Homo sapiens: one gene and its partner. The protein of the gene in region 2 purifies or fractionates together with the protein of the main gene of each other region. This does not show direct contact. Each region holds a gene or a part of one and is shown on either strand. Other genes may lie near its edges. The genes, in order: OSER1 and TRMT13.

Region 1 (3,924 bases), on a different chromosome or scaffold from region 2:
AAGTTTTTATTGCAAGCACAGTGAGCAGAAAGAGATGTCTTCTCACACAAAGTGGCCACAAGGTCTGCCATTAACTAAATCTCTTTGACAAGCCTTCATTGGTTTAAAGCATATGAATTAGCTTCTTGCTATCAGGTGTACATCATTTCTGCCATGTGGGACATTTTCTTGGGAATATACAAGTAATACTCCATGTAGCCTGACAGGTCCTCAATGGTCACATCATCCACGAAGACTCGAGCTTGCTCAGAACAGGATCGGGGAGAGCCAGACAGAGTTCTGGCGTGCAGCGACTGAGAGTAGTCCTCAAGTGTGGATCTTCGTTCTGGAGCCAAGGGAGGGACACTCTGCAGGCCTGAAAAGGAATACACTTCCATATCATGCCATCTCTTACACTGGCATTCCTTGCCTATGCATGTGCATGGCTTGCCCTGGTTTAGCTTGGAAACTGATTGAAAGTCAGAGAGATCACTGGCTTTGAGACTTGCTTGGGGGACTTGGGTAGCGTCAGAGGAGTCTTCCTTCTTACTCTCTGATGGGAGCCTTGGAACAGAAGTTCTCAAAGGCTCAACGACTGCCCCTGTGTGATTAGCATCGAGAGAAGTAGAGCTTTCTCCTGCACTGAACTCTTTAGGGGATGAAATTCCCAGCCCACTGCTGCCATCAGGTGAGTCAGTCTGGCTTTTGTGCTTGAGTTGACTGCTGGAAGAAGACGCTATTGTACTGCAATGTATAAACTTTGGAGGATGAAGGACAGGAGACTTAGAACGTCGACGACGCTGAGTTCTCACTGCTCCTCGTGAAGACTTCCTTGTAGACCTAAAGAGGAAAAAAAATATACAAGAAGATGTTGGGATATGGAGCTGTCCTAAACAGATTCTTTATGACAGTAGGAAATTTACCTTCCCTCAGCTTTATGAGTCTAAGCTCATAAATTTCCTGCAAGAGATGCACCTTCCTCCATTTTCATGCTGCCTAAGTCTTTGTGTCTCAACAACTTCAACATCATCTTATTAGCAAGCTATAGAACGAGGTGAGATAATGGTATTTTTTAACTGAATCACCTGGGCCAAACATTTGGGACAGAACACCTGCCCTGTTCCAACTCTAAGCTTGGGAGCCTTTGACCAGTGGGTCTGAGGGAAGCACCTCAAACATACAACTGAAACCGATCCTGTGAAGCCTAAATATTGTGCCCTAAACCTGAATATAGCAGCTTCAGAACCACTGTGAGGCTAACGTTACAAATGACCATTATGCCATTACTATTAAATAGATTTCTGATTCATTTCTATCATTGGTAACAGCCAATCAATCAAAACCAAAAAACTAACAATATTTACAACCCCTGAGGTTTTCAGATACTGGGAATTACTGGACACACTATGTAAGATAACTATTTATAAAATATTTAAATAGCCAGGCGCGGTGGCTCACGCCTGTAATCCCAGCACTTTGGGAGGCCGAGGCAGGTGGATCACGAGGTCAGGAGATTGAGACCATCCTGGCTAAAGCGGTGAAACCCCGTCTCTACTAAAAATACAAAAAATTAGCCGGGCGTGGTGGTGGGCGCCTGTAGTCCCAGATACTTGGGAGGCTGAGGCAGGAGAATGGCGTGAATCTGGGAGGCAGAGCTTGCAGTGAGCTGAGATCACGCCACTGTACTCCAGCCTGGGCAACAGAGCGAGACTCCGTCTCAAAAATAAATAAATAAATAAATAAAATAAAATAAAATTAAATAAAGAACTGAATGAAAAGAAAAGATACTCAAAACTGCTAAGTGAATTAGAGACAAGAACCAAACAAGACACTAAAAAGCTAAACAGAACACAGTAATCCCATCTTATCCATGGTTTCGCTTTCTACAGTTTCAGTTACCTGCAGTCAACCATGGTCTGAAAATATTAAATAAAAAATTCCAGAAATAAACAATTCATAAGTTTTACATTGCGCCCCACTGTGAGTGGCATGACAAAATCTTGCACCATCCTGCTCCGTCCCACCTGGGATGTGAATCATCCCTTCGTCCAGGGTATCCACACTGTATATGCTACCTACCCATTAGTCATTTAGTAGCCATCTTGGTTATTAGATCAACTACCATGGTACTGCAGTGCTTGTGTTCAAGTAACTCTTATTTTACTTAACAATGGCCCCACAGTATAACAGTAGTGATGCTAGCAGTTTGGGTATACCAAGAAAAGCCACGAAGTGCTTCTGCTGTGGTTAGAATGTGTCACCCAAAAGTTCATGTGTTGTCAACTTGGTCCCGAATGCATCAGTGCTGAGACCTTTGGGGGTGATTGGGTCACAAAAGGACTCTGCCTTCAAGAATGGATTAATCCATCCACAGATTAATGAATTAAAGGGTTATTGAGGGACAGGGATAGTTATCACAAGAACGGCTCTGTTATAAAAGCCGGTTTGGCTACTTCTCACGAGCCCCCTTGCCACGTGATATCCTTCCCCATGTTATGATGCAGCAATGATACACTCACTAGATGCTGGTGCCATGCTCTTACACTTCCCAGCCTCCCGAAATGTAAGAAATAAGTCTCTTTAAAAATTACCCAGTCTCAGGTATTCAGTTACAGCAACAGAAAATGAACTAAGACAGCTTTCTTTAAGTAAAAAGGTGAAAGTTCTTGACTTAATAAGGAAAGGAAAAAAATAAATCGTATACTGAGGTTGCTAAGATCTACGGTAAGAACGAATCTCCTATGTGAAAAATTGTGAAGAAGGAAAAACAAATTTGTGATAGACTTGCTGTTGCACTTCAAATGTGAAAGTTACAGCCACAGTGCATGTAAGTCCTTAGTTAAGATGGAAAAGGCATTAAATGTGTGGGTGGAAGACATGAACAAAAACGTGCTCTGACTGATGGCAAATGGGTTTGATATTGTCTGCAGTTTCAGGCGTCCACTGGGGTTCTTGGAACATATCCCCTATGGATAAGAGGGGACTTGTACACACAGCTAAAGAAAGAATGACTGACGGGAAAATAAATCTGAATTATTTGTAACAGGGGCCAGCAAATTACAGCCTGTGGGTCAGATCTGGCTCCCTGCCTGTTTTTGTACAGCTTGTGGACACTGCTCCAGTGGGCTAGCACTGTGAGCCACAGACCAGGCTAGGGGATCCTCCCCTGTCCCTATTCTCCCTGCCCGCCTTCCTGGCCAGTAGACAAGCTGCACCACTGTCCAGCGCCCGCACTAGCTAACATCTACATGTTGGGTCTCTACTGTTGGCAACTGCTGATCATTGAGAGGCAGAATCTCAGTTCAAGACTCCAACCAATGCTGGGATCTCTGGAGGAGAAAAGAGCATGCTGAGATCTGAGCCTCACTGGGACAGAAAGTAGAACTGACCCTGGCACTACCTGCTACCCACCCATTCCACAAGGTTCTCCTTTCAGGCTAGTCACTCTATCCTGCGACTGTCTCAGCAACTGAAGACAGAATGTGTCCACCAGCCAGGACGGCCAACCCCAGGCAAACAGGGTAGAGTAGGAGTTTTCTCTCTTATTTAAGCACTTATTAATATCCTTGAATTTTTGCTTCTTGGCCTCCAACGGCTAAAAAATTTACCATACGGTGCTTTACAAAAAAAGTTTGTCAACCTCTGACCTAAAAGGCAGTACAGAGACAAGGATTTGGAAAAAATGTAAAAGTTAAGAGAGATGACAGAGTAAGTCTGGAATTTCTGAAGAAACGAATACAGAGAACAGAGGACAAGTGATTTTTATAGACATAATGACCAAGAAATTTTCTGAATTGATAAGAGAATCTATGAACACAGGAAATACACTGGAGCAGGATAAAAAGAAATCCACATAAGAGACACTCTGTAGCAAAACTATAGAATAGCAAAGACAACAGGAAGATCTTAAAAGCAGCCAGAGACTAGAAAGATTATTTCCAAATT
Region 2 (3,924 bases):
TTCTGACAAAATACATTTAGTCATTGTTTTATTCATATTTGACTTAAGTAAGTGATTTTCAGAAATGTGAATAACCAGATAAATTATTAAAAGAATTAAGTTATTTCAGGCCAGGCGCAGTAGCTCACGCCGGCTGAGGTGGGCAGATCACGAGGTCAGGAGATGGAGACCTTCCTGGCTAACACGGTGAAATCCCGTCTCTACTAAAAATACAAAAATTAGCCGGGCGTGGTGGCACGAGTCTGTAGTCCCAGCAATTCGGGAGGCTGAGGCAGGAGAATCGCTTGAAGCCGGGAGGCGGAGGTTGCAGTGAGCCGAGATTGCGCCACTGCACTCCAGTCTGGGCGACAGAGCGAGACTCCGTCTCGAAGAAAAAAAAAAAAGAATTAAGTTATTTCAGAATTAGAAGGAGCTTTAGCAATTTATCTCAATTCATCTTTTATAAAGAACTTAAAAGACAAAGCCACATATGCAGAAAGGGACAAGGAAACACAGCAAATTGGTAGCCAAGATTATTCATTCATTCAAATATTCACTGTGTTCCTGTTATATAGCAAGCATCGTACTAAGTATATACCATATACTCAAAAAATTCAGAGCATGGTGGAAGAATTAGATATATAAACAGATAATTAAAATACCACAAGGTAAAAATATGCAGAGGGTATTATGATAACACCAAGGAGGCATATCTTATTTAAGGGAGCTCCCTGAGAGTGGTGACAACTGAGGTGAAGGATGAGTAAAAATTGACCAGTTGTTTTGTTTGGGTGAGTAGGTGAATGGGGGTGAAATTCCAGATATAGTAGAAATAGTACAGTCTATGGAAAAGCACACAGGGTTTGATGTTGCTGAACAGCAAAGTAGGAGACAGGGAATGTAAAGAGAGGAAGGCTGAAGCCAGATTGAGACTAAAACGTTATGTCAAAGAGTTTGGACTATATCAGGAAGTACCGAAGAGTTTAAAGGGAAAGACACATTAGTTGTGTAGCAGATGGGTCTGAGATTGATTGACCGATTGAGATAGGGTCTTGCTCTGTCACCCAGGCTGCAGTGCAGTGGTGCTATCCCAGTTGACTGCAGACTCAGACTCTTAGGCTCAAGTGATCCTCCCACCTCAGCCTCCTGAATAGCTGGGACTACATGCACAAGCTATCGTGCCCAACAAATTTCTGTAGAGATGGGGTCTTCCTATGTGCCCAAGCTAATCCTGAACTCCTAGCCTCAAGCAATCATCTCACCTCAGCCTCCAGTGTTGGGTTTCCAGGCATAAGCCACTGTGCCTGGCCTGAATATTAGTATTTTAAGGACAGAAGTGGAAGGAGACTGTGAAATAAACAGAAGAATGGCATAGATGTAGGGGAAGAACCAGGAAATAAGAGTATCGCAAAAGAGAAGAAAATGGAATTTCAAAAAGGGTAAGCAACTGCAGCAGAGACAAAAGGAGGATTCAGATACAGTGAATCAAGGGAAAAAATTATGTGGAACATGAGAAATGGCCACTGTAGGTCAAAAGAGTGTACTCCCTCCTACCCCCGGGATGGAACTGGTTTACTTTAGAAGACTTTTATGAGGCTTAAATGAGATAAGGTATGCAAAAGTACAGTCATGCATTGCTTAACTATTGGTGTATGTTTTGGGAAATGCATTAGGCGATTTCATCATTGTAGGAACATCAGAGTGTACTACACAAACCTAGATGGTGTAGTGTAGCCTACTACACACCTAGGGTGTATGGCACAGCCTATTGCTCCTAAGCTACAAACCTGTACAGCATGTTACTGAATACTGTAGGCAACTGTAACACAATGGTATTTGTGTATCTAAATACAAAAAAGGTACAGTAAAAATATGGTATAATTTTATAGGACCACTGTCATATATGAGTCCATTGTTGACCAAATCATCGTTATGTTGTACATGACTATAGTCTTAAAAACTATGAAGGCCAACACAAATATATAGTACTCAATGCCATTTCCAGCCAATATGAATAATATCTATGGATGCTCCAAGTAATCCATATGGGTAGATGATGAAACTAGCAAAAGTTAGGAAGATGATGTAACAATAATTAACATTTATTGAGCACTATTATGTGCCAGACACTTTACATGCAACCCGGTAAATTATTAATATATTAGTATCTCTGTTTTATAGATGAGGTAACCAAAGCTCAGAAAGGTTAAGTAATTTGACAAGGTTACACAACAAAGCTGAAGGCTAGACTATCTGATTCTAAAGCACATGCTGTTTCCACTTTACCATGCTAGATCTGATGGATCAAAGTGCTAAGACAAGACATCTTAGATTTTTTTTTTTTGTCTAACATTTATTTTTTTCTTTTTCCCCAGAATCCTGAAACACAATAGTCTTTTAGTAGAAGAGGTTTCTGAGTTCTTTCTAAGCAACTACTCTAAAAAATCAGTAGCTTCTAGGTGGAATCATACAGTTTCCATAAATGGTCTTATTTTCCTTTTCTGGTTGAAATTTAACCCAAAGAACTTTAAGGTCTAATGTGATGCAGTATTTACATACAAAACTCTTAATTCATCCTGCAAAATGGCCAATATGAGCAGATAAATAGGAAAGCTATGCATCTAATAAAGCACAGGGCCAGTGCTCTATAAAGATTATTGAGTTGTAAACATAAGATATCTATTCAAAAGAGACCACTGAAATGGTTGGGGCCAGGTTAGGCCAAAACTTAATGCATTAATGTAAACATTATCAGTATGTTTACGTACCTGTTGCCATACCACACAGATGCTTTCCAATTCCTACCACAGGTAGTTTTTCTTCTCTTAGCACAGGAATCTTGTCTGAAATGGAAATGAGAATTAACTGTCTAGTGAAATAAAGTACATATTAATGTGGCCTTCCAAAAGAAAGAACTAATTAGAGTCTCTGAATTTTAGCCTGAAAGAGACTCAAACAAAAATTATCACTTTATGGAACCCAACATATAACATAAGAACTTGTTTAGGGTTCATAACATCAGAAAGTTAATATATTCAGCTAAATAATTTTAAATACATTGATTTCTATACAAATGCTGGGTTGCTTTTCATGGCTGGATTAAAATTGGTGAATGGAAGAGGTTGCAAAGATATGTTTGCATTATTTTCTTTGGATAATCTGAAAAATAGAAAAGGTATAAAAAGGGCACTACAGAGGTTGATTGAGGAGTTTGTGTGTGTATGTGTCTGTGTGTGTTTTGTGTATGGAATATGAATCCCACAGTGATGACTTCTTTTGTACAATTTAAAATTCTAGGAAGTATCTTTTACACATTAGCTAGGCAGAGAAATATCTCATTTTCTTTCATGGTTTAGGTAAAGTCACGTTAACTGCAGGCAGAAGGCTAGTTTATAGTTTGAACAGACTCAAAATTAATTTAAACAGGACAAAGAAACAACAGAAGTACATATTATAAAACTTTTAAACTCTTCCCTAATATAACACTTCATTTCCACTTGATACTGAAAATTTTTAAAATTCTCAACCTTAATTCAATTTACATCTATTTAAAAACATTATATAAAACATTCTATATTAACAATGAATTGATTTGACTGTTTTCCCTGAAGCACAGTTCTGCATGATTGGATTTCTAAGCAACCTCAGAGTTTAAAACAGTTATGATTTATTTGTAGACCAATGGAAAGTTACACAACTTACTCAAACACAAGTGTTGAATATCAATTTGAAGTCTTTCAAACACTGAATTTTTCTTTCTGTGTTTTCCATCCACCTGCACAAACAGAACATTATTGTAATAATCACTTCTTACATTTAAAAAAGCTTTATGAAAATAAAAAGATTTTTATTGGTTTTCAAAATTCAGAGCAACAGAACATATTTAAAAATTAAGATTGTACATTCTTTGATGAGAACTTCAAAATATCACACTTTTTAAAAAAG

Evidence for each region.
Region 1: the proteins of TRMT13 (region 2) and OSER1 purify together in Homo sapiens (affinity purification with mass spectrometry; 2 studies listed by BioGRID and IntAct, with this or other methods). This does not show direct contact.

Annotation. Positions count from the first base shown.
Region 1 is NC_000020.11:44,196,921-44,200,844, forward strand, and holds part of OSER1 (oxidative stress-responsive serine-rich protein 1), read right to left. Parts: intron 820-3,924; coding exon 132-819; 3' UTR 1-131.
Region 2 is NC_000001.11:100,142,967-100,146,890, reverse strand, and holds part of TRMT13 (tRNA:m(4)X modification enzyme TRM13 homolog), read right to left. Parts: intron 3,755-3,924; coding exon 3,682-3,754; exon of another isoform or gene 3,677-3,681; intron 2,823-3,676; coding exon 2,748-2,822; intron 365-2,747; coding exon of another isoform or gene 219-364; exon of another isoform or gene 1-218. UniProt on the Homo sapiens protein: tRNA methylase which 2'-O-methylates cytidine(4) in tRNA(Pro) and tRNA(Gly)(GCC), and adenosine(4) in tRNA(His).